Homo sapiens: one gene and its partners. The protein of the gene in region 1 purifies or fractionates together with the protein of each later gene. This does not show direct contact. Each region holds a gene or a part of one and is shown in the gene's direction. Other genes may lie near its edges. The genes, in order: FMNL1, CAP1, TMPO, RALY, LSP1, ARHGAP4 and CWF19L1.

The links.
Region 2: the proteins of FMNL1 (region 1) and CAP1 purify together in Homo sapiens (affinity purification with mass spectrometry, with the first as the bait; one large-scale study listed by BioGRID). This does not show direct contact.
Region 3: the proteins of FMNL1 (region 1) and TMPO purify together in Homo sapiens (affinity purification with mass spectrometry, with the first as the bait; one large-scale study listed by BioGRID). This does not show direct contact.
Region 4: the proteins of FMNL1 (region 1) and RALY purify together in Homo sapiens (affinity purification with mass spectrometry, with the first as the bait; one large-scale study listed by BioGRID). This does not show direct contact.
Region 5: the proteins of FMNL1 (region 1) and LSP1 purify together in Homo sapiens (affinity purification with mass spectrometry, with the first as the bait; one large-scale study listed by BioGRID). This does not show direct contact.
Region 6: the proteins of FMNL1 (region 1) and ARHGAP4 purify together in Homo sapiens (affinity purification with mass spectrometry, with the first as the bait; one large-scale study listed by BioGRID). This does not show direct contact.
Region 7: the proteins of FMNL1 (region 1) and CWF19L1 purify together in Homo sapiens (affinity purification with mass spectrometry, with the first as the bait; one large-scale study listed by BioGRID). This does not show direct contact.

Annotation. Positions count from the first base shown.
Region 1 is NC_000017.11:45,231,665-45,235,814, forward strand, and holds part of FMNL1 (formin-like protein 1), read left to right. Parts: intron 1-702; coding exon 703-816; intron 817-1,559; coding exon 1,560-1,633; intron 1,634-1,983; coding exon 1,984-2,067; intron 2,068-2,407; coding exon 2,408-2,536; intron 2,537-4,150. UniProt on the Homo sapiens protein: May play a role in the control of cell motility and survival of macrophages. Plays a role in the regulation of cell morphology and cytoskeletal organization. Required in the cortical actin filament dynamics and cell shape.
Region 2 is NC_000001.11:40,057,466-40,061,615, forward strand, and holds part of CAP1 (adenylyl cyclase-associated protein 1), read left to right. Parts: intron 1-1,868; exon of another isoform or gene 1,869-1,871; 5' UTR 1,872-1,881; coding exon 1,882-1,993; intron 1,994-2,601; coding exon 2,602-2,705; intron 2,706-4,150. UniProt on the Homo sapiens protein: Directly regulates filament dynamics and has been implicated in a number of complex developmental and morphological processes, including mRNA localization and the establishment of cell polarity.
Region 3 is NC_000012.12:98,542,616-98,546,765, forward strand, and holds part of TMPO (thymopoietin), read left to right. Parts: intron 1-1,614; coding exon 1,615-1,734; intron 1,735-1,826; coding exon 1,827-1,922; intron 1,923-2,335; coding exon 2,336-2,446; intron 2,447-3,743; coding exon 3,744-3,832; intron 3,833-4,150. UniProt on the Homo sapiens protein: May help direct the assembly of the nuclear lamina and thereby help maintain the structural organization of the nuclear envelope. Possible receptor for attachment of lamin filaments to the inner nuclear membrane.
Region 4 is NC_000020.11:34,000,108-34,004,257, forward strand, and holds part of RALY (RNA-binding protein Raly), read left to right. Parts: intron 1-4,150. UniProt on the Homo sapiens protein: RNA-binding protein that acts as a transcriptional cofactor for cholesterol biosynthetic genes in the liver. Binds the lipid-responsive non-coding RNA LeXis and is required for LeXis-mediated effect on cholesterogenesis.
Region 5 is NC_000011.10:1,880,097-1,884,246, forward strand, and holds part of LSP1 (lymphocyte-specific protein 1), read left to right. Parts: coding exon 1-128; intron 129-1,335; coding exon 1,336-1,500; intron 1,501-3,322; coding exon 3,323-3,464; intron 3,465-3,835; coding exon 3,836-3,928; intron 3,929-4,150. UniProt on the Homo sapiens protein: May play a role in mediating neutrophil activation and chemotaxis.
Region 6 is NC_000023.11:153,915,752-153,919,901, reverse strand, and holds part of ARHGAP4 (rho GTPase-activating protein 4), read left to right. Parts: intron 1-215; coding exon of another isoform or gene 216-335; intron 336-618; coding exon 619-747; intron 748-848; coding exon 849-1,070; intron 1,071-4,150. UniProt on the Homo sapiens protein: Inhibitory effect on stress fiber organization. May down-regulate Rho-like GTPase in hematopoietic cells.
Region 7 is NC_000010.11:100,257,394-100,261,543, reverse strand, and holds part of CWF19L1 (CWF19-like protein 1), read left to right. Parts: intron 1-499; coding exon 500-578; intron 579-1,224; coding exon 1,225-1,326; intron 1,327-4,150.

The DNA of each region.
Region 1 (4,150 bases):
TGGCCGCTGGAGCCTGCAGTGGGGTGGGGGGATTAGGAATTGCATCACTGAGCACAGGAGAGGAGCACGCAGGTTCCTGCCAACGCAGATGTGCAGGGCGGCTGGGTCCGAGTCCTACCCAGGTGCTGGGTCCCCTTCACGAGGCACCTCCAGCCGTCCTTCCCCGCCGTATGCCAGCTCTGGTCCAGGGAGGGCACCACCTGCTGGCTAGACTGAGTTCCTTCCCACCCCAGGGCGGGGCCTACGGCAGGACTGACCCCTGCATAGTCCACCCCAAAGCTGTGTCAGGGCTGTGGCCTGGGAGCCCATACAGGAAGGGCAGGCTAGGCCTAGGCCAGGGGTTTTTAAAGTGGCCCGATGCTAGCTGGGCGTGGTGGTGCACACCCGTAGTCCCAGCTACCTGGGAGGCTGAGGTAGGAGGATCGCTTGAGCCCGGGAGTAGGAGGCTCCAGTGAACTATGTTCGTGCCACAGCACTCCAGCCTGGGCCACAGGGCAAGAAAAGAGAAAGATAAAAGAAAAGAAAAAAAAAGAAAGTGGCTTGGTGGACTGTTTGGGTTTATACCTTTGGTATTTCAGAGGCGTCTTAAGAAAGCCTGGGACCTCAGATCGGAGCTGAGAATGGGACACTGGGACGAGAACTGGTCATTTGCCCTGGGGTAGCTCTGGCTGGTTTTCTGTACACCCCATTCCATCTCCCCAGGAGCGGTTTCAAGTCAAGAATCCCCCCGCAGCCTACATCCAGAAGCTGAAGAGCTATGTGGATACTGGTGGGGTCAGCCGAAAGGTAGCAGCTGATTGGATGTCCAACCTGGGGGTACATGTCTCCCCTCTTTACTCTGTCCCTTTCCCCCACATTTTCCAAGCTCTGGGCAGCTGGAGTAACTGTGTGTACAGACTTTTCTATGTGCGTGTGTGGGTGCATGTATGAGTGTGTGTGTGTGTTTGTGTGTCTGTGTATTTATAGGGGAATGAGAGTGCCCTGGGTGTGCACTTTAGATATTCCTCTGTACATCCTGTGTGTGCTTACATGGACACATTCTGTGTACTTATACTGTGTGTATACACATGTGCAGCCCATATGTCCATACATAGGTGTGTGTGTATACTATGTGTGTACTTTGTCCACTTATGGATGTGTGTGTGTACCATTGAGTCCATATCTAGGAGAGAGAGAGAATGTGTGTGTGTGTGTGTCCATGTATGGATGTGTGGATATTCTATGTCTGTATTTAGAGTGCAGGTATATGGATGTTCATGTGCTGTGTGTGTGTGTGCGCACACACACTCTGCCTCTTTGTGTGTGTGCATGTGTATACCTTGTGTGCCCATGTATCGGGGGTGTGTGTACCCTGCTTGTCTATGTATGGGGGAGCACATGTAGCCTGTGAGTTCTTATTCTGCTGGGCAGGTGTGTGGAGGTGGTGGGGGAGGCTGAGCATGAAAGGCCACTTGTGCCAGTTGGAGGAGGGTGGGCGCTGCTGCCTGCTGCCTCAGGACTTGGTGGGCCTGTGGGAGGCCGGGCTCCACCCACCAGCCTTCCCTGTTCTCGGTCCCCAGTTTAAGAGGCGAGTTCAGGAGTCCACGCAGGTGCTACGGGAGCTGGAGACCTCCCTGAGGACCAACCACATTGGGTGAGTGAGGGCTCAGATCTTCCTCTCTGGGCCTAGGAAGGCTCTGCTTCCAGGCAGCTCCTGGAGCTTCCCCTTCCTACTCCCCCTGCCCCCTGCACAAGGCTGTGCTTGTGGACCACCTCCTGGAGGTGTCCAGGACAGCTTCCCCTCCCCTTCCTGCCCATGCTCTGACTGGCACCTTGAGGCATGGCTGGGCTGTGGGACCCACCTGAGTCTCCCAGAATCCTTTGGTATCATTGGGTCTTTGGGGGTTGAAAGGGCACCCCAGGGGTCCTTGCTGTCCCTGTTCTGTGCCCATGTGGGGCAGGACCTCCTTTCTGGCTGGAGCTCAGGGAGCCCTGTGCCCACAGGTGGGTGCAGGAGTTCCTCAATGAAGAGAACCGTGGCCTGGATGTGCTGCTCGAGTACCTGGCCTTTGCCCAGTGCTCTGTCACGTAAGCCCCCTGCTCCCAGCCCTCATGCCGCTCCTCAGAGCTTTGATCCCCGTCTCCCTGCATCTCACCCACTCCCCTGGCCAGTTTCAAGCCAGGCAGCCCGAGCCTACCCTGGAACCCTCCACTTGGCCTTGAGCGATGCTCCTTCCAGAAGGCCTGCCCCCGACAGGGAGGGGTGGCCTCTCTTCCACCACTATGTTCAGCACAGTGCCAAGAACACAGCCTCCTCCTCCTGCTCCTTAGTCTCACCTGCAGGTCTGTCTCTCCTTGCGTTTCCTCTGCCCCCTCTTAAGTGGCCCCTGCAGTGTTGGCCTCCAGCCCCATTGCATCCTGTCCCCAGGTATGACATGGAGAGCACAGACAACGGGGCTTCCAACTCAGAGAAAAACAAGCCCCTGGAGCAGTCTGTGGAAGACCTCAGCAAGGGTCCACCCTCCTCCGTGCCCAAAAGCCGCCACCTGACCATCAAGTATGTGGGCCACAAAGTGGGGTGGTGGGAGAACAGAGAATTCAGCCCCCACACTGCTGCATCTAGCCAGCCCACCCCGGGCCCTTGGGGTTGGCGAGAGGGGTAGCCATGCATTAGGGGTCCGAGTAAGGGACTCATACAGAGTTTGGGACACCAGTATGTTAAGAAGCCATCAGGGGTGGGGCTGGGTGCTGTGGCTCATGCCTGTAATCCCAGCACTTTGGGAGACTGAGGTGGGCAGATCATTTGAGGACATGAGTTTGAGACCAGCCTGGCTAACATGGTGAAACCCCATCTCTACTAAAATACAAAAATTAGCCGGGTGTGGTGGTGCACGCCTGTAATCCTAGCTACTCAGGAAGCTGAGGTGGGAGAATCGCTGGAGCCCAGGGGATGGAGGTTGCAGTGAGCTGAGATCGCACCACTGCACTGCAGCCTGGGTGACAGAGTGAGACCCTGTCTCAAAAAAAAAAAAAAAAAAAAAAAAGAAAAGAAAAGAAAAAAGAAGCCATCGGGGTGGGCACCTAGAAGTTGGAGTCTGGATGGGTCTGGGATAAGAAGGGAGTTTCTGGGTTGGTGGGACCCCTCTTGTATGCATCTAATCCCCTGTTTTCTCCCATGCGGCCTCCAGGTGTCCCCCTTCTCCCCGGTACGTAGCCATCTAGGGGCAGGTGCATGCCTGGCTGACTCCCTCCCAGGGTGGTGGTGGGTTAGGATGAGGTATTCAACTGATGTCCCTGGGTTCAGTGCTGTGGCTGGGTTCCTCCATCCTAACACGGGCATCTTGCTGGGAGGCAGGAAGCAGGCAGTAGATGGACCCTAGAGCATCTTGTGAATCCCTAGCTTCCTGCTTTGGGTCTAGAGGATTGATTGCATATTAAGCCTCAAACTTTCACAATATGTTATTTGTCCATTCATGCAATTATGCATTCAGCAAACATTTTTTTAACACTTAGTATGTATTAGGTATATGGCAGGTGCCCAGGAGACAGGTCACCCTGCCCTCAGGGGCCCACAGTCTAAGTGGGGGACAATTTAGTGTGACAGGCTGTCATGGAAGTGTGCCTGGGAGCTCTGAGAAGGGAGGTGGCCACCACTTGGGACATCAGGAAGGCTTCCCAGAAAAGGTGACGCTGGAACTGTGTCTTACAGACAGATACAGGCTTTACAGGCAGCCATGGGAACAGGGAAGAGCATTCCAGGCAGAAGGAACAGCATGAACAAAAACTCTGACATATTAGCACAATGACAAGAAAGGGTGATGTGGCAGGAGGGGGTGAAGGCGGGGCCTCCTGGTATTACTGGGAATGTGATAGAATCATCAGAGAGACTGACATGTGGAAGTCCCGGTCGGCAGTTCTGCAACAATGAAAACATCACACATTTGTTGGCGAAGAATAAGGGAGTACAGTCATATAGCACTTACTATGTGCCAGGCACTGTTCTAAGCCTATTCCATAGTCCCAACAACCCTGACAGGAAGCTACTATTATTAGCATTCCTATTCTAGAAGCGAGGAAAGTGAGGGATAGGGAGATTAAGTGACTTATCCAGTAAATGGTGAGCTGGGATGCGCCTGAACCCTGGCAGTGTGAATTCAGATCTGCGTCTTAC
Region 2 (4,150 bases), on another chromosome or scaffold:
TGCTGCTGCTGCAGGCCAAGGAATGGAAAGGTTTGTTTGGTTCTCATTCTCATTTTTTTTCTTTGCTTCTCTTTTAAACAACACTCTCTGACAAGTGATTGGGCCCACAGAGACCAGAGCCTGTACACAGAGAATGGACAGAGACTATATTGTCTTCCTTACTTTATCTTGTGAGCTGCTTATCTCTTCCACAGGGAGGACAATGTGTTAAATTGAGATAATTCTGGCATGCTGTCATCTTTGGGGGAATCATAATTGCTGTTGTCATTTTAGGCAGCTTCAAGGGAGTTGAGTTCATTCAGCTTCAGTTACCTGAACTGAATTCAGTTGCCTGAATTGACGCTTTTGTGAAATGGAATCTTTCCAAGTCAAAGCTTGGATTGAAATTTCACTGACTGGTTTTTATGAGATCACTTAGGGTCTCAAATACTTTATGTAGAGGTGCATTGATCATATTTTACACTTATGTGTGACTTATGGGCAACTTTTAGCACCCTTATCCCTCTGGAGTTTTGGAATGCTATTTGTGAGGTTTATAACTTCATAAATATTTATTGAACATCTACTACCTGCCAGGTAGTAGTCTAGATGGTAGAGTATACAGTAAGGAACAAGCTATATAAGGTCCTTTCTCTGTTGGAGCTTACTTTCTTTGGGATATTAGACATTGAATTAGGCTATTTCAGATAAGATAGTACTTGTGAAAGATCTATAACAAATTCTTTTGGATGTGTCTAGTGTCCTTCCCTACTGCATGTCCAGATCTTTCTCATCTTCATTTGAAGGCTGGCTCAAATGGCAGCTTCTCCATCATATCCTTATCTGATCCTTCCAGCTGATATATTACTCCCCTCTTTGAAATCTCATGCCTCTCTATCAGCAACTTTCTTATGTCACCTTAACATTTTTTTCTATTTGTTTCATAGTTGTTAGTGCATATGTTAAGTCTCCCCATTAGACTATAAATTACTGAGGGCAGGCCGGGCACAGTGGCTCACGCCTGTAATCCTAGCACTTTGGGAGGCCAAGGCGGGTGGATTACTTGAGGTCAAGAGTTCAAGACCATCCTAGCCAACACAGTGAAACCCTGTCGCTACTAAAACTACAAAAAATTAGCTGGGCATGGTGGCGCACACCTATAACCCTAGCTACTTGGGAGGCAGGAGAATCCCTTGAACCCAACAGGGTGGAGCTTGCAGTGAGCTGAGATCCTGCCACTGCACTCCAGCCTGGGTGACATTGTAAGACTTTGTCTGAAAAAAAAAAAATTATTGAGGGAAGAGTAAACATCCTATTCATCTTGGTTTGGGATATTTCACATGCAGGCAGCAGGATGTTGTAGGAAAAAAACACACTGAACTTAGAACCAGAAGGATCAGATAAGGATATGATGGAGTACTGGCTTCTCTATTCACTGGCCGTGTGACTAGACAAGTCATTTAGCTTCACTGAAACTAAGTTTTCTATCTCTAAGCGTGTAGTAATCATCCTTCTATTCCTGAATAGTTGTCGGGAGGCTCAAACTGAGATAATGTATGTGACTATCCTTTGCAAATTCTAACTTTCTACACACAGTATCATAGTAAATATTGAGTATTTGAATGAGTAAGCATTTACTTTAGTGAACACCTTTTCCTGAGCAGTTCTCTTGCTTAATGAGGTCTTTTGATTTTGTAAATATGCTACTTTTTTATCTGATATTTTTGTATTGTTCCATTTTGCAGATGATATCTAATTTTATTAAATTATTCTGTTCCTGAGAATTGGCATCCTCTTCATCCACCTGGGGATGACCAGGAATTTTCTGTTTTTTTCTCTGTAGGTGCTATTTAATATTTAAATAACAAATGACATTTGATCTGTTTCAGCAGGTGGTCCATTATGGCTGACATGCAAAATCTGGTAGAAAGATTGGAGAGGGCAGTGGGCCGCCTGGAGGCAGTATCTCATACCTCTGACATGCACCGTGGGTATGCAGACAGTCCTTCAAAAGGTAAGCAGTCCACAGCCCAGCAGAATGCTTTCTTTGAGCGTCTTGGCCTGAAAATTTTCTATTATTCTCTCCTTTGGCGCTAACTTCCCAAAACTTAATCTAGAAAGTTTACCTTTTGTAATTTGTATTGCTGTGAACAGATAAGAGAGGAAATGACTTGTACAGGGAGGCCTGTGGTTAAGTTATTTTAACACAAGAACTTCCTGCTTGTGCAATATTTCCTGCTCTTTCTTTAGCAGAATGACTCCAATGTAAGTCAAATGACAAGTGATAATAAAATTCCTCTCTCCAAACAATTGGCAAATTGGACATTTTGCACATGCACCAGTTGGAACATAGAATGTTAGCACTAAAAAAAACCTTGGAGGATCATTTTGTTTATTTTCATTTTATAGATAAAGAAAATTAAGCTCAGAGAGGAAAAGGAATTTAGTCAGGGTCACACAACCAGTTAGTGGTGATACTGGACCTGGAACCCAGGTTTCCTTACTCCTGTTCTGTATCCTGTTGACTGTATTACCTTGCCTCCCCACTTTCATGTAGAAGCACGTTTTAAAGAAGCCTCCTTCTGATGCATGGCTGATTCTTTGTGGTGTGTTTGTCTTTAGCAGGAGCAGCTCCATATGTGCAGGCATTTGACTCGCTGCTTGCTGGTCCTGTGGCAGAGTACTTGAAGATCAGTAAAGAGATTGGGGGAGACGTGCAGAAACATGTAAGGATGTTTTGCCTTTTTCCCCTTCTTTTAAGGACTAACAGCTTTCTTCAGTCAGCCAAGGTCCTCATCCTTGGTTTAAGAGCTCCTTGAGAAGTTCCTCTTGGTTTGGGGCATTACACATGTTCTTTCTCTTTTGCCTGTACTGAGGAGTTCAGTCTAGCCACAGAAACGATTCCTCATTTTTTTCTAGGCCCCTTGCTTTTATCACGTATTTATACAGAAAGCTTGCTTGGTACATAAAATATGGTTCTGTTCATCTTTGTAGTGAAGAATATGCACCAGTTTGATCCCAACATATTACATAATCAAACCTACAGTGGCTTATTTAAAGGAGTCATTATCATGACTTAGCATTTATAAAACTATGCTTGATAGTTATTAGTTATGCTAATGTGGGTTATTTTCACACTTAACCCACAGCAAGAATATGAAGTAGGCAATGACAGGTGCCTTTCCTCCCACCTTCCTTTATGCCTCCTACGTCATCACCACCACCCCCCACCCCCACCCCACACTCACATATACATTCTACCTCTATTTTTGGGACCCAAAAACCTTCCTGCTAGCTCACCGAATTATAAACAGTAACCATGCTTGGGAACTTCTTCACCTAAACCTTTCTCGAAGACTGGTTGCTTGGCTTTTGGAAAATCTATTTTGAGCCTCTCAAATACCATCTGTTGCCAATGGTTTTAGCTCTAGAGAGTGGGACTGGGACTTTAATAAGGGTGTGGAGGCTTGCATTTTTACTTAATACAGTTCTGTAACATTTGAAAAAACTTTAAAACATTTATCATTTGTATTTTAAAAATGCAAATCCAGAAAAAATAGATTGCTTTCTTTGAATTTTTGTATTTTAATAGTGCTTACAGTCTCATGTTTCTTAAATTCTTTTGACTGCGAATGACCCTTAGAAAGAAAGAACATATTCGTAACTGAGATAAAAGTTTCACAAGATGATATTTATACTACTTCTGCTGTACTTTTTTTTTTTTTAACTTTTTATTTGGAAATAACTTGAAGTTGGTGCACTGCACTCATACTTTTGTTCCATTAAGCTCACTAAATTGATTTAATTATTTATTAATGGGTCATGGTATCTGGCATTTGAGAGATAGCTTTAATCTAAAGGAGTAAATACCTTGAGAATTTTCAGCAGAAATTTAGGCCTTTGCCTTTACTCCTGTCTCCAATTTTTGAGAAAAGAAAGGTGTTTTTTTGGTTGCTGTTTGTTTTATTTTGCTGATGTGAAATAGGAAGGATTTTTCAGTGCACGGTATCACAATGCATGTGTAAGATGCTAACATGACTTCATGTAAGCTAGGTGATTATCCAATTAACTTCACTTCCAACTCTGGATATATATCCCTGATGAGTTCCAATAGGAACAGTAGTGTATGTAATTCTGCTCTCAGTCCCTGGAATCTGGAATACATGAGGAG
Region 3 (4,150 bases), on another chromosome or scaffold:
CTTTGGGAGGCCCAGGTGGGTGGATCACCTGAGGTCAGGAGACCAGCCTGGCCAACATGGCAAAACCCTGTCTCTACTGAAAATACAAAAAAATCAGCCAAGTGTGCTGGTGCGTGCCTGTAATCCCAGCTACTCAGGAGGGTGAGGCAGGAGAATCACTTGAACCTCGCAGGTGGAGGTTGCGGTGAGTGGAGATTGCACCACTGTACTCCAGCCTGGGCAACAGAGCGAGATTCTGTCTCAAAAAAATAAATAAAATAAAAATTAAAAAGCAGTTACTCTGTGTATGTCTGTAATTTGTTTACAAGTTTCTCTTTTGACAATAATTTTGCATTCAGCAAATACTTCCTAATTGATAGGATGAGGAACCCAGAGATTCAGATTGTGACTTAAAACTCTTATAATATCAATTCCAAATATAGATAAATACAAAACCATGATTTATGAGACTATGTCTGTAACTTGTGGGGTTTTGGTAGTATTACATCCAGCCATTTAGGCATATTTATTGGATGACCACTCCTGTCACAGGATTAAAGTTTAAAAAAAAAATCTGTCTTTAATAGACATTGACTTGGACCTAAAACCATCAGTAATCTAGGTTAAATATTGGCGTGAAAGCAAAAGTGACAACAGAAGGACACTCTACTATAATACTGATCATTGATGGATGTTCTGTAGTTAAAAGAATTTAAAAGAATCATCTGGTAATAGCGACTTCAAAACTGAAAACCTTAAACTACTTGGAATGCGGAATTTCGGGCCCTACAGCTACAGAATCAGAATCTGCATTTAACAGAAGCTTCAAGTGATTGATAGGCACATTACAATTTAAGAAGAACTGATCTAATGGGTTTTAAACCAGTATGTAAGAAATGCTGGATTCTTTAAAAATGATCAGTGGAACATAGAAATTAATCTGAGACTGAGAATTAATCTGAGGCAGCTGTTTTCTGTCTTTCTGTAGTGACATGGATAGCATTGAGATTTGAAAGTGACGTTAGGCTTGCATATTCATTAAAGAGTGACCACAGGGTTTTTGTGGCTACCTAATTTTGTATCTGTTTCCAAGAAAAATTTGACACCTGAGAATTTTTTAGTTCAAATAAGCTATATGTGGGATTATAATTTAAACTGATTCTACTAAAATGATTATAACCATATGAAAATAATAATGTTTATGCTAACAATTACAAAAGTTTGTATTTTTGTTTTAAAAGGAAACTGACTTATAATAGATGACTTTTTTCTAAGTCATGATCAGTCTGCTTTTTGTTTAGACAGAGATGTAGCTCCAATACTAGAGCCAAATAGCACACAGTGAGTCAAAAAGGGAACTGGTGATAGTTGATGTGCTTTTTTTCCCATAATGTTTATAATTTGTGAGCTACTATAGGTGGATTCTTTAGTGTATTTTAGCACTTTTTAAGTGTTTCCTGATGCCTAAATATCAGTTCAATTAATACATTTAGGAATATTTTGAGGACATAGCCTTGTTTGTAAATGCTGGCATTTGGAGACTTCTATTTCATGGCTTCTCAGTGTGCCAGTATGGCCGTTATTAAAGTATTTGATGTTAGAATATGACTTTTTAATGTGTTGATGCTTGAATAGAGCTATTCTCAAGCTGGAATAACTGAGACTGAATGGACAAGTGGATCTTCAAAAGGCGGACCTCTGCAGGCATTAACTAGGGAATCTACAAGAGGGTCAAGAAGAACTCCAAGGAAAAGGGTGATGCAAGGCTTATTCCTTGGGTTTTCAGATTTGTAGGGTTTTAGTATTATTTTATATTTATTGTTTTTGTTTTGTTTTCAAACTAACAGGTGGAAACTTCAGAACATTTTCGTATAGATGGTCCAGTAATTTCAGAGAGTACTCCCATAGCTGAAACTATAATGGCTTCAAGCAACGAATCCTTAGTAAATATGTTTCATAAACTATACAAGTGGTATTCTTTGTAAATTACCCTTTAATTGGAAATGGGGAGGTGGTGAATTTTGGCAAATCTCAAATTTACATGTTTTTTTTTTTTAACAATTTTAAACTGATTTTCCCCATATAGTTCTGAATTTTAGAATTTTCCTATAATATCCAATTTATGTAAAGAAATCTAATTCATTGTACAAGAAAGTATAAGGATATTTTTTGTTAAAATATTTGAAGAATGAGGCTTCATATGTGAGGCACTAAGTTGTGTTTGTAGGCTGTGTTGCTTAAATCTTTACTAAGGGAAAATTTCTAATATTACAGAGATAAAATATCTTTCTTTTCTTTTTAAGTGTCTGTGTTATGTTTGGATAATTCTGAGTCTGAATAATTTGAATCTTGGCAGGTTGTCAATAGGGTGACTGGAAATTTCAAGCATGCATCTCCTATTCTGCCAATCACTGAATTCTCAGACATACCCAGAAGAGCACCAAAGAAACCATTGACAAGAGCTGAAGTAAATGAATACAATTTAGATCGATGCTATCATTGATCTTTCAAAGAGGAAATATAAATATTTGTTTGTTTTTTTTTTTTTTTTTTGGAGTGGGAGGGAGCAGAGCTTTCTTTATTGGGTGGTGTGTGTAAATATGCATAAATTATTTTAAGGACACTTTTATTAGTGAAAACAGAAATTAACTAATATAGTTTGACATGCTAATACTATCCTCTTGCCACTGTATCCCTCTTAAGTTCCAGTTTTCAAGGGAGTGGTCATTTCTGTTCTGCTTATAATATGTTCTGTTTGTCATGGATGCAAGTTTGAAAGTGCTGCTGGGCTATGAGGGAGGCTACACTTTCTTTTGTTGACGGGTCAAATAAGAGACTTTAACATAACTTCATGTGGTGCTGGAATGGGTTAACTCCTGTGTAATTAAGCTTGAAAGTACTAACTGCATGGTGCATTTTAATTTGAATGAATCTTTACAAAAGGAGCCGAAACATTTATTATTTTGTTCTGGACATAAAGGTAAACAGTAAAACAAGCTAAACATTATATTTTTTTTAATTTGGGCATATTGCATTGACTATAATTTTAAAACATATAGTAAAGTTTGCTAAAGGTTCATGTTAAGTATCTTCTGTATTTTATCTTTTACTACAGAATTCTTAATAAATGAAGAAACAGTATACTTTTTTTTTTTTGAAACGGAGTCTTGCTCTGTTGCCCAGGCTGGAGTGCAGTGGCACGGTCTCAGCTCACTGCAACCTCCGCCTCCTGGGTTCAAGCGATTCTCCTGCCTCAGCCTCCTGAGTAGCTGGGATTACGGGTGCCCGCCACCACGCCCAGCTAATTTTTGTATTTTTAGTAGAGATGGGATTTCACTATGTTGGTCAGGCTGGTCTCGAACTCCTGACCTCAGGTGATCCACCCGCCTCAGCCTCCCAAAGTGCTGGGATTACAGGCGTGAGCCACCGTACCCGGCCCAACAATATACTCTTAATAGTAAAAAACAAAATCAATGAGGGAATTAGCATTGCCATGTTAGATTACTGAATTTTTTCCCCCCAGTTATTTAAATGTGTGGCAGTTTTTCACTCCAATAACCACATATATAAGGTATCTTCAAGAAATTTGAAGAGAGCCTTGGAAGCATGTGGATACCTAAATAATAATTTAGAAATGGCAGCTGTAAAATCTATGATAGATTTAAAGGCATTTTGTTCTCTAAAACTTACTATTTATGTTTTAATTATTGCATGTTTACACTAAATTTTAACTTGTGGTTGTTTGTTTGTCTGTTTCTTATTAGGTGGGAGAAAAAACAGAGGAAAGAAGAGTAGAAAGGGATATTCTTAAGGAAATGTTCCCCTATGAAGCATCTACACCAACAGGAATTAGGTATTCAGATACATTTAAACAAGTACTAGTGTATTCTAGTAGGGAATCTTTATTTTTAATTCTTCATCACAAAGTTACTGTACTTCTGCTCAGAATTAAGCTGTTTTTTTGGAGCCAGGTACAATGGTACATGCCTGTAGTCCCAGCTACTCAAGAGACTAAGGCAGGTGGATTGCTTAAGCCCAGGAGTTCGAGACCAGTCTGGGCAACATAATGAGACTCTGTCTACCCACCGACTTTTAAATAAATAAGTGAACGAACTGTTCTTTTGGGAGCAGTTTAATTCCCCTAAGCCCACCAGTAAATATTCTTGAAAGT
Region 4 (4,150 bases), on another chromosome or scaffold:
AAAATGACAGCCGTAATGTTAACCTGCTTGTCCTACAACTTCCCCCTGGGTACTGTAAGGAAATTGTGCTCAGGGTGCAGCTCACAGACCCTTAGGAATAGAGACAGAGTGCAGTGGAATAAATAGGAAGTCTTGTCACTAGCCTGAGCATCGTTTGGTCAGTGTGTGGGCTGGACTAAGGTCCTTTCTTTTTATAGCCCTGTTTCCTCATAAAATCATCTGGGGGGGTCCCTGAAATTCTATAAAGGCCCAAAGAGTGGGGGTGGGGAGGTAGGGACAGAAAAAGGGTTGGAGGTCCCTGTCTCTCTCACTTCTCCCCTCTCTTCGAACGAATAAGTAGAAGCAGGTATCTGGCCAAGTATTAATGTTGGTCATCTTTTGTTTCCACAGCCTTGCCTTATTTCCTCAGTGTTAGTGTCTTCTGTCATTTCATAATGGCTTTCATGGTAATCAATGTCCTGTACCTCCTGGGAGGAAGGAAGGAAAGATGGGATATTGTCCCTGGGCTCTAGTCTCCATCTCCAGAAGAGCCATTTAAGACATCCACTGCCCCCTGTTCTCTATTCTGGGGTTGGGGTAGGGGGTTGTGGCTGAATACTTGGGTTTCTTAGAGGGTACATACTTGAGTTTCCTAGGGAGTGCTCTACTAACTAAAGTGCAAATCTGGCTATCTTCCCAACACACCAATGAGTTTGACTGGGGAAAATAGCAGTCAGTGGGCTTTTGTTGCTTGCCAAACCCATGTTAATTGTAATTATCTAATATTCTGTGGGATCTCTGTCTTCCTGTCTGTGAAACAAGGGAATTGGACTAGATAATCTTGAGTGATATTTCTACCTTTTTACAGTTTTGTGGAAGTGGCTTGAGAATTTATCTCTGGAAGGAGAAAGGGCTTTGCTAAAGTATTGAGAGTATCTCAGAGGGTTAAATTCTGGGTTCACAAAAGATACCTTTCAGTATATAAACAGATGGATATTGCTTTTTAGAGTGGACAGATTGCTGAAAAATTGCTTGTGAGATGAATTTATCAAATTGTATGCTGAGTTCCATTATAAACTTGGAGCTGTAGCCTCATGGGACAAACTTGGAGTCCAAGACTATAAAAAAATTACATTAAAATATGTAGCAAACTGTTTAAAATCACATAATAAAGGAAAAATAAAAAACATTTTAAGATTTTCACACAATGGTAATAATGGAAAAACACTAGACCAGAAACTTGCATTTCCTAAGAGCTTTAGCTTATGGAGTAGATGCCTCTACTGAGGTTACCTGGCCCTTGAAGTGCCATCTGTAGAGACTGAATAGCTCTGTTATTTGTCAAGGTAAGACTCATTGCTTTATTCCAAGTAAATATTCTCTTTTAGAATGCCAGGTTTGGAAGCTTAATGTTATTGGCCAGATTTTCTTCATTCCAGAGGCATTTATCTGGTATTTAGCTGTCTCCTGTTTATTTTATTAAGGATTTTAATAAGCTTAGTTAACGGTACTGCTTACATGGTGTCTCTTGATCTATTTGTCTAGTTTCCTTTGAAATTCTTTGTGTTAGTGAAAGCAAGCCCAGCAGTAGATTTAAAAGGGTCATTTCCATAACTTCATTTATCTAGATTTGGGTTTTTTTGGTAAGAGATATGACCACACTATACTGAGAAATCGAATGTTGTTTCCTTTTTTTTTGAGACGGAGTCTCGCTCTGTTGCTCAGGCTGGAGTGCAGTGGCATGATCTCCGCTCACTGCAAGCTCTGCCTCCCGGGTTCATGCCATTCTCCTGCCTCAGCCTCCTGAGTAGCTGGGACTGCAGGTGCCCACCACCACGCCCGGCTAATTTTTTTGTATTTTTAGTAGAGACGGGGTTTCACAGTGTTCGCCAGGATGGTCTCGATCTCCTGACCTGGTGATCTGCCCACCTCGGCCTCTCAAAGTGCTGGGATTACAGGCGTGAGCAGCCGCGCCTGACCACGTCGTTTCCTTTTTACCTGAAGCATTAATTTAAGGCTTTGGAATTTTGTTTTTGCGGATACCTGTAAGGTGGTACTGAGGAATGGTGCTGCTGCCAAAGTAATAATGAGGGCTGTGCGTGAATCAGTTGAGCACAAGAATAACTTCTCTTCAGACTTTAAAGATTCACCCTAATTGATTCTTACACCAATTAAAATCAACCCTTACTAAAATTAGGGTTCAGAGGAAGTTACTTAGTTGCCGTGGCATGATTATTTATGCTTGGGAGTCCCAACAGCCTTCCATCCCTAATCTCAACCATTCGTTCCAGGAATTTGGAGTACCTCCTATATGTTCTTCTTATGGAAAACATAAAAACCAACAAGACATAATTCCTGTCCACAAATTACTTTCAGTCTTGAGAGGAAGACAGATAAGTAAAGCAAATCCAGCCTGCCGCCCTGGCTCATATATTTGGATTGAGGGTTCAAACGGAAAATAACATAATTGGTGGCTGTATCAGTAGACAAGGAGACCAGTTTGATAATCTGACTTCCAGTGTGTAGACTTTATTTTTTTGGCATTCCCTTCTCTCCCTTCTGTTTTTTACAGATATTTATCCTCTGTTGCTAAGGTGTCCAACACCCAGTGTGTAAAGTCAAGAATATTAGAGTAGGGGACAACATTTCCTTTCAGGTTTAGGTGTCCAGATATCTGCATCTGGACACCCACACAGTTCTCTGGCTGGCTTCAGGAAGATTTGGTATTGTCTCGCTTCTTATGTAGAAATGAAGAAAATTAAGTTTCATGTTGAATTATTTTAAGTTTTATTATGCTCTATTTTGAAATAAAATAGCTCTATTTTGTATGCAGGTGGAATTATCTGAGGTGTGGTTTCTGGCATTTGATCAGTCTGTGATTTGATAATTGTGTTTATATTGTAGTTCGTGAAGCCCATTGCCACTGCCAGCCGCCTTTGAACACTTTGCAGCAAGGAGCCCTAGTAAATGGAAATGGTGGGCACATTGAGGCTCTCCTGGTTTTGAAGGGCTCTTCCCTCTTTCCTACCCTTCAGAGAGAAATATTACTTGGGATGCTGTGTTGTGCTCCCGATTTCTTCCAACAATTTAGCATTGCCTGTGGGGTCTGGAATAATAAGGCCATGTAAACTGGAGATGTCATCTTCTCTCTCTTTGAAGTTCCATTTTCTCATCTGTGAAGTGGGGTTAACACTCCATATCTTGCCTTCCTCACAATGGTATTGTGAGGAGCAAATTAGAACGTTGTAAAATCACATGAGACAATTTATATGTGAAGAATCCATCAGTCATTTGTCAGTGGTAATAGGTAAGTGGCAGAATTTTCCTTAAGAGGGGAGATCGATCTCTTTGTAGGGAGCAGGGAGAGTGATCTCAGCTGGTCTCTGGGATTGGGAAAAAGTGTGATGAAAGCATCTGGACAGGGGCAATGATGGAGCAAAAGACTGGAGGTGAACTGTTCAGCGGGAACAGTGAGTAAGTGTTCTCTAACCTCATACTGTAAGTCCTAGGTTAGGCATATGTTTACCTTTGGTAAATATGCCAAACAGTTTTTTTTTTTTTTTTTTTTTTTGAGACGGAGTCTCGCTCTGTCGCCCAGGCTGGAGTGCAGTGGCGGGATCTCGGCTCACTGCAAGCTCCGCCTCCCGGGTTCACGCCATTCTCCTGCCTCAGCCTCCCAAGTAGCTGGGACTACAGGCGCCCGCCACTACGCCTGGCTAATTTTTTGTATTTTTAGTAGAGACAGGGTTTCACCGTTTTAGCCGGGATGGTCTCGATCTCCTGACCTCGTGATCCGCCCGCCTCCGCCTCCCAAAGTGCTGGGATTACAGGCGTGAGCCACCGTGCCCGGCCTCCAAACAGTTTTAAAAGGTCTACCAGGTTACATGGTTAGTGATGAGAAAATTGCTGTTGTTCTGTGTTGTTGTAAATACTTGGCATTGTCTATCTTTTTCATTTGAAGCCATTCTGGTTAGTAGTTATAGATATGAATTTTAAGAACCATACTATGAATTCTCACATAGCAAGTACCATAAAGGGGTACAATGATTGGGAAGTTCAGAAGGGGAAGAGATTGCTTCCTTTGTACATGGAGGAGGGGCAGAGGGGGAGTTCCCAAGGAACATTTGTGGACCAGTGAGTATTTGTGCTGGACTTTGTAGGATAAGGATAA
Region 5 (4,150 bases), on another chromosome or scaffold:
CAGTGGAGCGTGGAGGACGAGGAGGAGGCCGTCCACGAGCAATGCCAGCATGAGAGAGACAGGCAGCTTCAGGCCCAGGACGAGGAGGGAGGCGGCCATGTCCCCGAGCGGCCGAAGCAGGAGATGCTGTGAGCAGCCCCATAACGCGTGCCTGGGCTCTAGCCCCTATCCGTGTACCCTGGGGCCTGGGCAGAGGGGGAGGTCAAGGGCCTGGGCTTGGGGGTTCCAGTGCAGGATGAGAGCGAGGAAGGGCCCCCAGGAGCAGGCGTGGGAGTGGGTGAGTGCTCCTGGGGCGAGGGTGGCCACAGCCCTAGAGGAGGGTCTGCCAATACCTGGCTGCCTCCTGGGCGCTGACCCAGGCTCTGTGTCCGTGCCCTGGCCCTTGCTCGGACCGCCTCTGACCCCAGCCACGCAGCCTGGCCGAGCCCCCCACCAGACTCCCCCGCCAGTGACTCACAGAGCCACGTCCAACTTGGCGGCCAGGCTGGCTTGCTTCCTCCTTGGGCCCAGGAGGCCTCCGCGGCTGGGCTGGGCTGTTTTTCCAATAATGCTTCCCTTCCTTCTGGCCTCTTTTGTTCCATTTTCTCCAAGTCAGCAGCCTTGGGCAGAGTGGGGTTCAGCGGTCACCATAGTCAGGCCCTTGGCCACCCCCACCAAGGGCCCCAGCTATCCAGGGGCTCCCCCTGCCACATGGGAGGCCTGAGAAGTCGGGGCTTAGGAGGACCTCATGTAGGGTCCTCATGTGGGGACCAGGGCAGCCCTTGGGGAGCCCCAGGATGATGGGGGAGGCACAGCCCTGCCCTAGGGAGCCCCAGACTGATGGGGGAAGCACAGCCCTGCTGTTAGGGAGCCACAGGCTGACGGGGGAGGCCCAGCCCTGCCCTAGCGAGTCCCAGAGTGATGGGGGAGGCACAGCCCTGCTCTTAGGGAGCCACAGGCTGACAGGGGAGGCACAGCCCTGTCCTCAGGGAGCCCTACACTGATCGAAGAGGCACAGCCTTACCCTCAGGGAGCCCCAAACTGATGAGGGAGGCATAGCCCTGCCCTCAGGTAGCCCCAGGCTGATGGAGGAGGCATAGCCCTGCTGAGCCTCAAGGAGTCCTGGACTGATGGAGGAAGCACAGTTCTCAGGCTGCCCCAGAACTGACGGGGGAGGCATAGCCCTGCCCTCAGGTATTCTGACCACAGGAGACACAGCCCAGAGCCAGCTCTGTGGCAGACAGGGTCTCCCACACTTGGAGTCCAGGGCCTGAGCGGGCGCCGTGAGGTGAGTGTGGGCCCTGGGCAGAGGAGGCAGCAGCCGCCCAGGCCTAAGCTCCCCCCTGCTACCCTCAGCCTCAGCCTGAAGCCCTCGGAGGCCCCTGAACTGGATGAGGACGAGGGCTTTGGCGACTGGTCCCAGAGGCCAGAGCAGCGGCAGCAGCACGAGGGGGCGCAGGGCGCCTTGGACAGCGGAGAGCCCCCCCAGTGCAGGAGTCCTGAGGGGGAGCAAGAGGACAGGTGAGTGAGGGCCTCGAGGGCGGGCGCTGGGCAGAGCAGGGCTCCCTCTGGACCTCGAGGGCGGGCGCTGGGCAGAGCAGGGCTCCCTCTGGACCTCGAGGGCGGGCGCTGGGCAGAGCAGGGCACCGCGGAGCTCCCTTCAGGCCCTCAACCTGCGCCTGAGCAGCCACCCCATCCTCCCCTTTCCAAGCAGAGCCTGAAATGCCCCCATGGCCAGGAAAGGGGGAGACAGGAGGGGAGGGAGGAAGAGGGCGAGACAGCATGGTGGCCGGCGAGGGGCCGCGAGGAAACCTCATTCTGGGGCTCCCCAGGGCCCCTGGGCCCCATCCAGGCAGCTGCGAGGCCAGGCCGGGTGCTGCCACATCAGCACACAGCTGCGGCCGCTTCCGTAATGGAGGCTGAGAGCCCGCCGCCGCCCCTTCCTCCCTCGGGGCTGGCTGATCTCCATTCCCACGGAGGGGAGCAGGTATTTCCAGATGTGCATGCCGGAGAGTCGGCCGGGAGGACGCACTTTCCAGATGTGGGGATGTGTGTGCCTGTCTCAACCCCAACAGGCCCAACAGGGGCTGCTCCCGAGCCCCACTTCACTACCCCTGCTCGGGGTCCTTGCCGCTCTCAGTCATCTGTGGCCATGATGGGGCTGACCCCACCCGCCCTGCAGGGCCTGGGCCATCTGGGACCCCAGCCCTGCTCAGGACCCCCTTGCCTTGAGTGGGACCAGAGCCCATGGCTGGGCTGACAGTTCTCCCTGGTCAGGGTCCTTCCTGGCCCCTCTGAGGCCCTAAACCAGCCTGGAGCTCTAGGGACCAGTGTTGCTGAGCGACGCTCCCTTGTCCTCCTACAACCAGGCTCCCACTCCCCAAGAACCACTGGTCCTGGCCTGGCGCAGTGCCCACCGCCCCCCTCCCTGGGCCTCAGTCTCCCCCCTACGTGCTTGGGAGTCAGCGGCTCTGCTTTTCTGAGATGGGGCAGCTCCCTTCTCCCTTGGCCTCAGGCCTAGGCGGGCGAGGCTGCTCCCACCAGCAGGGGGCGCTTTGACTCTTCCGTGGAGCCCAGCTCTGCGGCCGCCACCCCACCCCCTGCACCTGCCTGGCTGCACAGACCTGCTCCTGAATGGCCCCTCTGTGTGGCTGCTGCTGGCTCAGACCCCTGCCCACCTTGGGCGGGTGGGTCTGGGTCTTGGCTGGCACGCACACCCAGGGGCCTGAAATCATGGAAAATTCGAGAATTTCCCATCTTCTCCTCCAGGTTCAGTCCTGCTCAAATGCAGAGCCGCTCAAAGCTGCCAGCTGGCTGGCCTCCCCTCCCCCGCAGCCGGCAGCCCCTTGGCCCTGCTCCTCAGTGACCTGGCCCCTACCCCTGCCTAGCCCTCCAAATGACCCAGCCTCCAGTCCCCCAAACACCCAAGGGCCCCCACAGGGAGCAGAGCAGGAGTGGTGGCCCCAGCAGCCCGGCCTCGCGGGGACCCCGTCAGACCAACCGGGTGTGCAAGCAGCTGCCAAGCTGAGGCCCAGCCACAAAGCTGGGGATTGAACCCAGCCTCAGTGCCTGGGGGACCCTCAGTCTGTAGAGCCCTGTCTGGCAGGGACTGGGCAGTTCCCCAGGGGCCTCAGGCCCTGACACAGGGGCCCAAGCAGACTGCGCTGGCTCTGAGGCCACTGGACCTTCTTTCCCAATGGGCTTGGGTCTCAGATCCCTTGGCACTCAAGTAGCCTGACTACCTTCATTTTACAGATGGGGAAACTGAGGCTTGGAAAAAGGAAGGGGTCAACCAAGCAATCCAATGGCCCTAGAACGGCTTTGCCTCCCTTTCCACCCACAGGCCCGGCCTGCATGCCTACGAAAAGGAGGACAGTGATGAAGTCCACCTGGAGGAGTTGAGTCTGAGCAAGGAGGGGCCAGGCCCAGAGGACACTGTCCAGGACAACCTGGGGGCCGCAGGGGCTGAGGAGGAACAGGAGGAGGTGATGGCTCCACCTCAGAGGGTCTGGGTGTACCCCCACCCCAGGGATGAGTCTGCCTTGGCTGTCTGCACCACTCTGTGGGCCCTGTGGGTCTAGCCCAGAGTGGGTCAGCACCCCACACCCCTAGACCTTGCAGCCCCTTCTGGGCCCACATTCTCAGAGAGGGCAAGGCTCAGTGATCCTCTTGCAAGATCCGGAGACATCTCTCCAGACTCCTCAGTCCCTCCCCACCAGCTCCAGAACTGGAGCACGTCAGGGCCACAGAGAACCTGGGGCTCAGGAAGGAACAGCATTTGTTCCCACAGGTGCTGGGCAGGGCAGGAGGGGCACAAGCAGGGGGTCACTTGGGATGTCTGTTTTTTTTTTTCTAGCACCAGAAATGTCAGCAGCCCAGGACACCCAGCCCCTTGGTCTTGGAGGGGACCATCGAACAGAGCTCGCCTCCCCTGAGCCCTACCACCAAAGTAAGTTAAGCTGCAAAGCCTGCCATCTTCTCCCCTCTCCCGTACTCATACCCAAAAGGCCAATCCCACATGCCAGCCACAGGAAGACCAGGCCCAGGCCTGGCTTTTGTCTGCTATCCCCCCATTGCCCGGTGCTCAGCGAACCCCCATGATATAAGGGTTGGGGGTTGGATTAGTGGTTGGAGTAGCTGGGGAGATGGAGGGTGGGCTTTACCTCGGCTG
Region 6 (4,150 bases), on another chromosome or scaffold:
GGCGGGAGAATCACTTGAACACAGCAGGCGGAGGTTGCAGTGATCTAAGATTGCACCACTGTACTCCAGCCTGGGCGACAGAGCGAGACTCTGTCTCAAAAAAAAAAAATAAAAAAAAAATAGAGTGCCAGTTTTAGAACCCAGGTGCCAGCAGGTTCTGTTTCATGGCTCTTGATGATCTATCCCTACCCTTTGGGGTACTCGTTCCCCCTCAGCTCTGGCCCCCGCAGAGGCCTGTGGCCGCTTCCAGCTGTGCACCTGTGTGCTGGCTCCAAGCTGGGTTTCTCGTGCACCCTCCATGGTGGGGTGCCATGTGCGCACCTTCCACTCATCAGGTATCTGTGAATAGTTCTGTGTCATCCCCCACTTCTGTGGGGAATGTTGTGGCTCGAACCAAGGCAAGTGGCGGGTGAACAGCCGGGGAATCAAGTCACCTCCTGGCACTGGGCTGAGCACACTGTGGACTGTGGCGTGGGGAAGGCAGCAGGACTTCTGGGCTTGACCAGTTCAGGTGTAGTTGTCCACAGTGGGAGGGGAGGCGATGGGCATTACATGAAAGGCTAGAGATAGGGGCTGGCCACGTGCGTGACCCTGGCACGCTTGCATTGTCTTGAGTAGCGGCAGGCCAAGTTCATGGAGCACAAACTCAAGTGCACAAAGGCGCGCAACGAGTACCTGCTTAGCCTGGCTAGTGTCAACGCTGCTGTCAGTAACTACTACCTGCATGACGTCTTGGACCTCATGGACGTGAGTCCTTGGTGGGCAGGTGGGAAAAGGTGCCTGGTGCCTCGGGGCTGGGAAGCTGTGGCTCCAGGACCTACCCAAGCATCTCCTTGTTTCCTCCTCAGTGCTGTGACACAGGGTTCCACCTGGCCCTGGGGCAGGTGCTCCGGAGCTACACGGCCGCTGAGAGCCGCACCCAAGCCTCCCAAGTGCAGGGCCTGGGCAGCCTGGAAGAAGCTGTGGAGGCCCTGGATCCTCCAGGGGACAAAGCCAAGGTTCTCGAGGTGCATGCTACCGTCTTCTGTCCCCCGCTGCGCTTTGACTACCACCCCCATGATGGGGATGAGGTGAGGGTCACCCCCTGCTGGGCTTGGCATTCTCTGGCCTTCACTGTAATGGTGGGCAGTGGAGTGGCATGACCCACACTTTGCTCAGGAATCCAAGTTCTCCATGGTCTCAGGCAGTGCGGCAGCTAGAGAAGTGTCCCACTTCCATTTGCAGCCTCACTCCAAGGGTGCACCCCCGCAATGGCCAAGGAGGGCAAGACACTAACTGTTCAAACCGTGCAGCAGGCAGCCGTGTAGCTGCCCATACATTGTTCTAGGCTGGTTTCTCTGTGTTTTTAAATTTCGTGACACAAACTTGGCAGTAAGATGGAATGGGGCTTCTTTATCCTTCTCCGTCGAGCTAGTTTTTCCTGCAGCAGTTTATCCTGATGGGCATTGTCAATGATCTGGGATTACATTGGGCCCCTTTCGGGCCGACTTGGAACTTTACGAAGAGTCCGGCATCACCAGGGCTTCCGATGGCGTCACAGCTGCTCCCTAACCCACCCCTCCCGTTCCCAGCTCCCACCCCCAGAAACAGCCACCCACCTCCCGGTGTCAAGCAGCCATTTTCCATTGGCCAATGATGACCCAGTGCCACCAGCATCTCTCACAGCCACCACACGCTTCCCTGCATCTTGTTCTCCCAGTGGGCTTATCCCAGAATTTTTGGCTAAATTAACATTCAATGTTTAAATCACCATGACAACAGGTACTGTTGGCAGCTGAGCCATGTACTGTATTAGGATCACATGTCCTTCCTTGGACAATTTTTCCTTTTCTTCTGGAATTTATAACTCTCTTGCCTCAGGAATGCTGCTTGCTAGAACATGCCCATTGCTAGGAGTTGATCGCTACCTCGTCCCAGCACTGTCCTCCACACCAGGCACCTGTGAGGTCAACCTTCTCCTCTGCGCCCTCCCCCAGAGCCTTCCAGTCTGGAGTGCTTCACTTCTGCCCAGTGCTCTGTTTCCGGATTCCACGGCAGCAGCTTTCTTAGTTTGATACCCTTATTTTGGTGACACCTTCACCAAGGGTTTCCTGACTTTGCACATCTGAAAATGTCTGTATTCTTTGTTTTGTTTTGTTGTGTTTTGTTTTTGAAACAGGGTCTCACTCTGTCCCCTCGGCTGGAGTGCAGGGGTGTGATGTGATCTCAGCTCACTGCAGATGCAACCTTCTGGTCCTCCCATCTCAGCTTCCCAAGTAGCTGGGACTACAGGCCTGCACTACAACGCCAGGCTAATTTTTCTATATTTTGTAGCAAGGGAGTTTCACCATGTTGCCCAGGCTGGTCTCAAACTCCTGGGCTCAAGCAATTGGCCTGCCTCGGCCTCCCAAAGTGCTGGGATTACAGGTGTGCCACTGTGCCCGGCCAACCCTTTATTCTTATTTCATGAATACAGTACTTCTTGAATCTTTCTGAAGCTTTTATTTTTTTTGAGATGGAGTTTCCCCCTTGTCGCCCAGGCTGGAGTGCAGTGGCACGATCTTGACCCACTGCAAACTTCGCCTCCTGGGTTCAAGTGATTCTCCTGCCTCAGCCTCCCGAGTAGCTGGAATTACAGGCACTTGCCACCACACCTGGCTAATTTTTTAATTTTTTAAATTTAATTTATTTTATTTATTTATTTTTTGAGACAGACTCTTTCTCTGTCGCCCAGGCTAGAGTGCAGTGGCGCAATGTCGGCTCACTGCAACCTCTGCCTCCCAGGTTCAAGCAATTCTCCTGCCTCAGCCTCCTGAGTAGCTGGGACTACAGGTGCCCGCCACCACGCCTGGCTGATTTTTGTATTTTAAGTAGAGACAGGGTTTCACCATATTGTCCAGGCTGGTCTTGAACTCCTGACCTCAGGTGATCCGCCTGCCTCGGCCTCCCAAAGTGCTGGGATTACAGGTGTGGGCCACCGTGCCCGACCCTTTTATTTTTATTTTTTAGTAGAGACAGGGTTTCACCATGTTGGCCAGGCTTGTCTCGAACTCCTGACTTCAGGTGATCTGCTTGCCTCAGCCTCCCAAAGTGCTGGGATTACAGGCGTGAGCCACCATGCCCGGCCTGAAATGTTTTTTGTTTTCTCCTGTTCCTGCATTTGCTCTATTTTCTTGCTTTTGTTCGTGAGTCCAAAATCCCTGCTATATCCTTTCCAGAGAGCAAATAGTTAGTTTTCTGCTGATCGTGTCTGTTTGGTGATTCTTGGCCATCAGTTCATATTTAAGAAGAGGCCTGAACACATACCCCACAAATGTGGGTGTCTGTGGTGTTTCCTCCTGGCCCGGCCAGTTTCCCCAGTAGAAACTCTTCTGACCCTGTCTAGGGAGGAGAGGGGGTGAGAGGGCTGGGGGCTCACTCTGCTGTGTGGATTTCCTTGGAACTACCTGGTTTTAGTTCCACACCCTCCAGCCAAAGCCTAGCAGGAACAGCCCTATAATCTCCATTGCTGGAGGGAGCCCTGCTCCGTGGGGAGCCTGGGGCCTCTCAGTGAGAGGGTAGTGGAAAGGCCTTAGAGGACTTGGGCTTGCCTTAGGGGATCTGGGGGAGGGCCCAGGTAAGTGGGGCTTGGTCCTGGATTGGATGCCTTCTGGAAGCAGGGTAATTGTATGATTGGATGTCTTGATTAATCTTATCTAGAAAGAGACAGTGATGGAGGCTGAAGTGATGCAAGGAAGTGACAGTCACTTACATTAGCCAGGATGGAGGGATGATTTTGTGGCTCGGAAGAAGTTCTTGATTTTGTCCTCACTCATGCGTGATCGCAGAGTGGTCTTGTTTCTGTCTTCGCCCATCAAGGTCACACAGTGGCCTTGCCTGATGTTGATGCTCTGGGTCATTTCCGGTGTTCAGCAGGACAGCACTGAGGCCGGGCTGATAGGACCAGGCCAGCTTCCGATGGTGGGGCTGCTGTGTTCTCTCATCTTCCTCATCTGGGACCAGTGTCCCTGAGTCCAAAATCCCTGCTATATCCTTTCCAGAGAGCAAATTGTTAGTTTTCTGCTGATCGTGTGAGTTTAGAGGAGGGATAAAATTTCAATGTTCCCCAGAGTATGCATACACTTATTTTTTCTCTAGAGAGAGGGTCTGGCTCTGTTGTCCAGGCTGGAGT
Region 7 (4,150 bases), on another chromosome or scaffold:
TTCCAGGTATGAGGATAATTTGTTCATTGGGTTAAAGGTTGGGTAAAGACAACAGGCAGGAAATGTGTTTTTTATACCTTGTATTTCTCAGATTCTAATATTTTAAGTTTTTTTGTTTCACACGGGGATTCTTTAAAGATCTATTTCTATGTGACTGTATATTCCAGGGAAGGATATGTGGAGAGAGCCATGAATGGCAGAGTGGGACTGGGAATTTGAGGAGCACTTGAATTCTAACTTACTTTAAAAGTTTAGTTCCTTGACTCTCTCTTACCCATCTCTAACTTGAATTTGACAGCCAAAGAGCCAAAACTTAATAATTCATAGAATCAGTAACTGTTAACAGTTGCTGCTAAAGAATTGTATATTGAAATCTGCAAATTGATTAAGAATTAAAAACTGATTTGAAACTATTAAATAACTAGTTGAATATTACTATCAATTATGTACTGTTTGATATTTTAAAATCTCATATATCTGTTTAAAAAACTCATTTTAGCTGCTGTTGTGTGTAGGAAATTTCTTTGGCTCCACCCAAGATGCTGAATGGGAGGAGTATAAGACTGGCATCAAGAAAGGTATAGAAATTATTTTTATTTAACATATGATTTCTAATAAAATTTCAAGGGCCAGAGTTCTTGCAGAGTTGTTTTTCATTATTTAAGAATTTAAGAGTTATTTTCAGTATTTAAGAATTTAAGTTGCTTTTCATTATTAAGACTATCCGGCGCAGTGGCTCACACCTGTAATCCCCGCACTTTGGGAGGCCGAGGCATGTGGATCACCTGAGGTCAGGGGTTCAAGACCAGCCTGGCCAACATGGTGAAACCGTGTGTCTACTAAAAATATAAAAATTAGCAGGGCATGGTGGCGCATGCCTGTAATCCCAGCTCCTCGGGAGACTGAGGCAGGAGAATTGCTTGAACCTGGGAGGCGGAGATTGCAGTGAGCCGAGATTGCACCACTGCACTTCACCCTGGGCGACAGAGCAAGGCTCTGTCTCAAAAAAAAAAAAATAAAATAAATAAAATAGCCAAGCTACAAGGTTGGGTGTAGTATATCCTTAGTGGATAGCTGTTCCACATTTAGGATTGCTAAATATGGGGAATGTGAATGCATGGACTATTTACTTTTAATATAAGTATTTTTTCTATAGAGAGGCATATCTTAAGTTCTAAAGCAGATCTGGTAACTATATGGTGTCATGTCTGTTTCCCTCACTAGCTCCTATTCAGACATATGTGCTTGGTGCTAATAACCAGGAAACAGTAAAATATTTCCAGGATGCTGATGGATGTGAATTAGCTGAAAACATTACTTATCTGGGTAAGCTGATACTTGTTGTATTTTTTTTTTGTTTTTTGTTTTTTGTTTTTGAGACGGAGTCTTGCTCTGTCACCCAGGCTGGAGTGCAGTGGCGCAATCTTGGCTCACTGTAACCTCCACCTCCCGGGTTCAAGTGATTCTCCTGCCTCAGCCTCCTGAGTAGCTTGGATTACAGGCGTGTGTGACCATACCCGGCTAATTTTTTTTATATTTTTAGTAGAGACAGGGTTTCACCGTGTTAGTCAGGATCATCTCGATCTCCTTACCTCGTGATCCGCCCACCTCGGCCTCCCAGAGTGCTGGGATTACAGGCGTGAGCCACCGCGCCTGGCCGATATTTGTTGTATTTGTAATGAACATAATATAGTGTTCTCAGGAATTAGTCTCCCAGGAAATTTTTGGCTAGATTTTTCAGTGATTGCAGCCTGAGATAATGGGGTTTGGAGGGTTTTTTCCCAGAGTCTGTATATGTGCTGCTGTGCCCTTAGGACAATGCCTTTAGGACAGTGGCATTTTTTCTTTATTATTTCTACCACTTAGCCCCAATATCGTTGCGTTCCCACAACCCGGTACACACTTGTTTAGCCAACTGGAGGGATAAACTCCTTGTCTATAGTATATGGGATACTTAAGGTATAAATTATGTTCACACAAAGGAAATTTCATGTATGTGGCTTTACCATACAATCTTGCTAGGTATATACAGCTTACTTGTTAATGAGCCTCCCAACTATTTATAGCTCTAGGTTTCACTCTAAGGTTTTGGCAACTCAGGTTTTTAGTGCTGTTCTTTGGGGGCTTTTTACTCTTTTTTTACTCTCCTTTTTCTGGTTCTAGGTACACTCTTCAGTTCCAGCTTAAAGTTGTTTCCTCCACAGCCCTCTGTATTGCTTTTAGTGGCTCTTTCAATGTCTGGCTGTTTTCAAAAGCACTGTCAAATTTTGCTTTTGTTTTCCCCCCACCTGCTGGCAGTCTGCTGCCTCTTAGATCATTCAACTCTTTTTTTTTTTTTTTTTTAAGACAGTGTCTTGCTCTGTTGCTCAGGCTGGAGTGCAGTGGCATGATCTCGGCTTACTGCAACATCCGACTCCCTGGTTCAAGTGATTCTCCTGCCTCAGCCTTCCGAGTAGCTGGGATTACAGGCACGCACTACCATACCCAGCTAATTTTTGTATTTTTAGTAGAGACGGGATTTCACCATGTTGGCCAGGATGGTCTCGATCTCCTGACCTGGTGACCCGCCTGCCTCAGCCTCCCAAAGTGCTGGGATTACAGGTGTGAGCCACTGTGCTCGGCTTTTTTTTTTTTTTTTAGTTGAATTTACTATTCTTCACATTTCCTCCTTGTTGGTCTTATTTCTCTAGAAAACTTCTTCATTTCCTTTGCTGTAAATGTCCTCTCTCTCCTTCCCCATCATAGTTCATCTTGGCCTTTAGTCTTTATTTGGCTATGGCCCTCCCGTTACCAGTCTTATTTTGCACTAATCCTGTGGGACTTCTTTAAGCAAAAATTGAAGGAAGGACTTTATTTGTTTTGTTGTTTTAATATGGAACTCTTCATGAATTTGCATGTCATCCTTGTGCAGGTGCCGTGCTAATATTCTCTTTATCTTTCCAGTTTTAGTATATGTGCTGCTGAAGTGAGCACTGTTTAGTTTTAACTACACATATCAGATACGCATTTTGAAATTCTGTTGTAGATTTTAACATGAGCCTGACTTATGCAGTTCTTGGTATAGTTTGTAGATTTGGATTAAGGGCATTACTGTAGATATTTGGCAGCCATTTTACTATATGAATTTAGTGCCAGGAAAGGAAAGAGCAGCTAAGGTACTTGGGTTATTTCTGTGAAATAGATTTTTTGGATCCAGTAGGAGGATCAAGCAGTGAACTTGGTAGTGAACATGTGATAGTGAGCTTGAAATACTGGTAGGACATCCAACATATAGTTGGAAGTGAGAGTTATTATTATTATTTTTTGAGATGGACTTTCGCTCTTGTTGCCCAGACTGAATTGCAATGGCATAGTCTTGGCTCACTGCAACCTCTGCCTCCCGGATTCAAGCGATTCTTCTGCCTCAGCCTCCTGAGTAGCTGGGGTTACGGGTGTGTGCCACCATGCCCGGCTAATTTTGTATTTTTTAGTAGAGACAGGGTTTCACCATGTTGGTCAGGCTGGTCTCGAAATCCTGACCTGAGGTGATCCAGCTGCCTCAGCCTCCCAAAGTTCTGGGATTACAGGCATTAGCCACTGTGCTGGTCCGAGAGTTCTTTCTAGAGTATCAGTGTTGAAGAGTATAGGCTTTGGAGAGTTGGTCCCATAATGATGAAAAATAGAGCTGAGAAGAGGATCAAATTATTAAGGAAGAAATACAATCAGAAGGGAAGCAGGTTGATGATAGTACCTTGGTGGGTGGGGATGGTATATCTTCATCTAGGGGGTAGGAACAAAGACATAAAAGTGCTTAGAGGACTGTTTGAGAGGTAAAGATATTGTCAACTTCATGGAATCTACTGAAGATAACATAGTTTCAGGAGAACATTGGCAAATATAGGGTGACCTTTAAGAGAGTGATGGGAGAGGGAAACTGATTGCAGGGGGTTAAGGAACTAATAAAGTAGGCTGGGCGTGGTGGCTCACACCTGTAATCCTAGCACCTTGGGAGGTCGAGGTGGGCAGTTCACGAGGTCAAGAGGTTGAGACCATCCTGGCCAACATGATGAAACCCCATCTCTACTAAAAATAGAAAAATTAACTGGGCATGGTGGCGGTCACCTGTAGTCCCAGCTACTTGGGAGGCTGAGGCAGGAGAATCACTTGAACC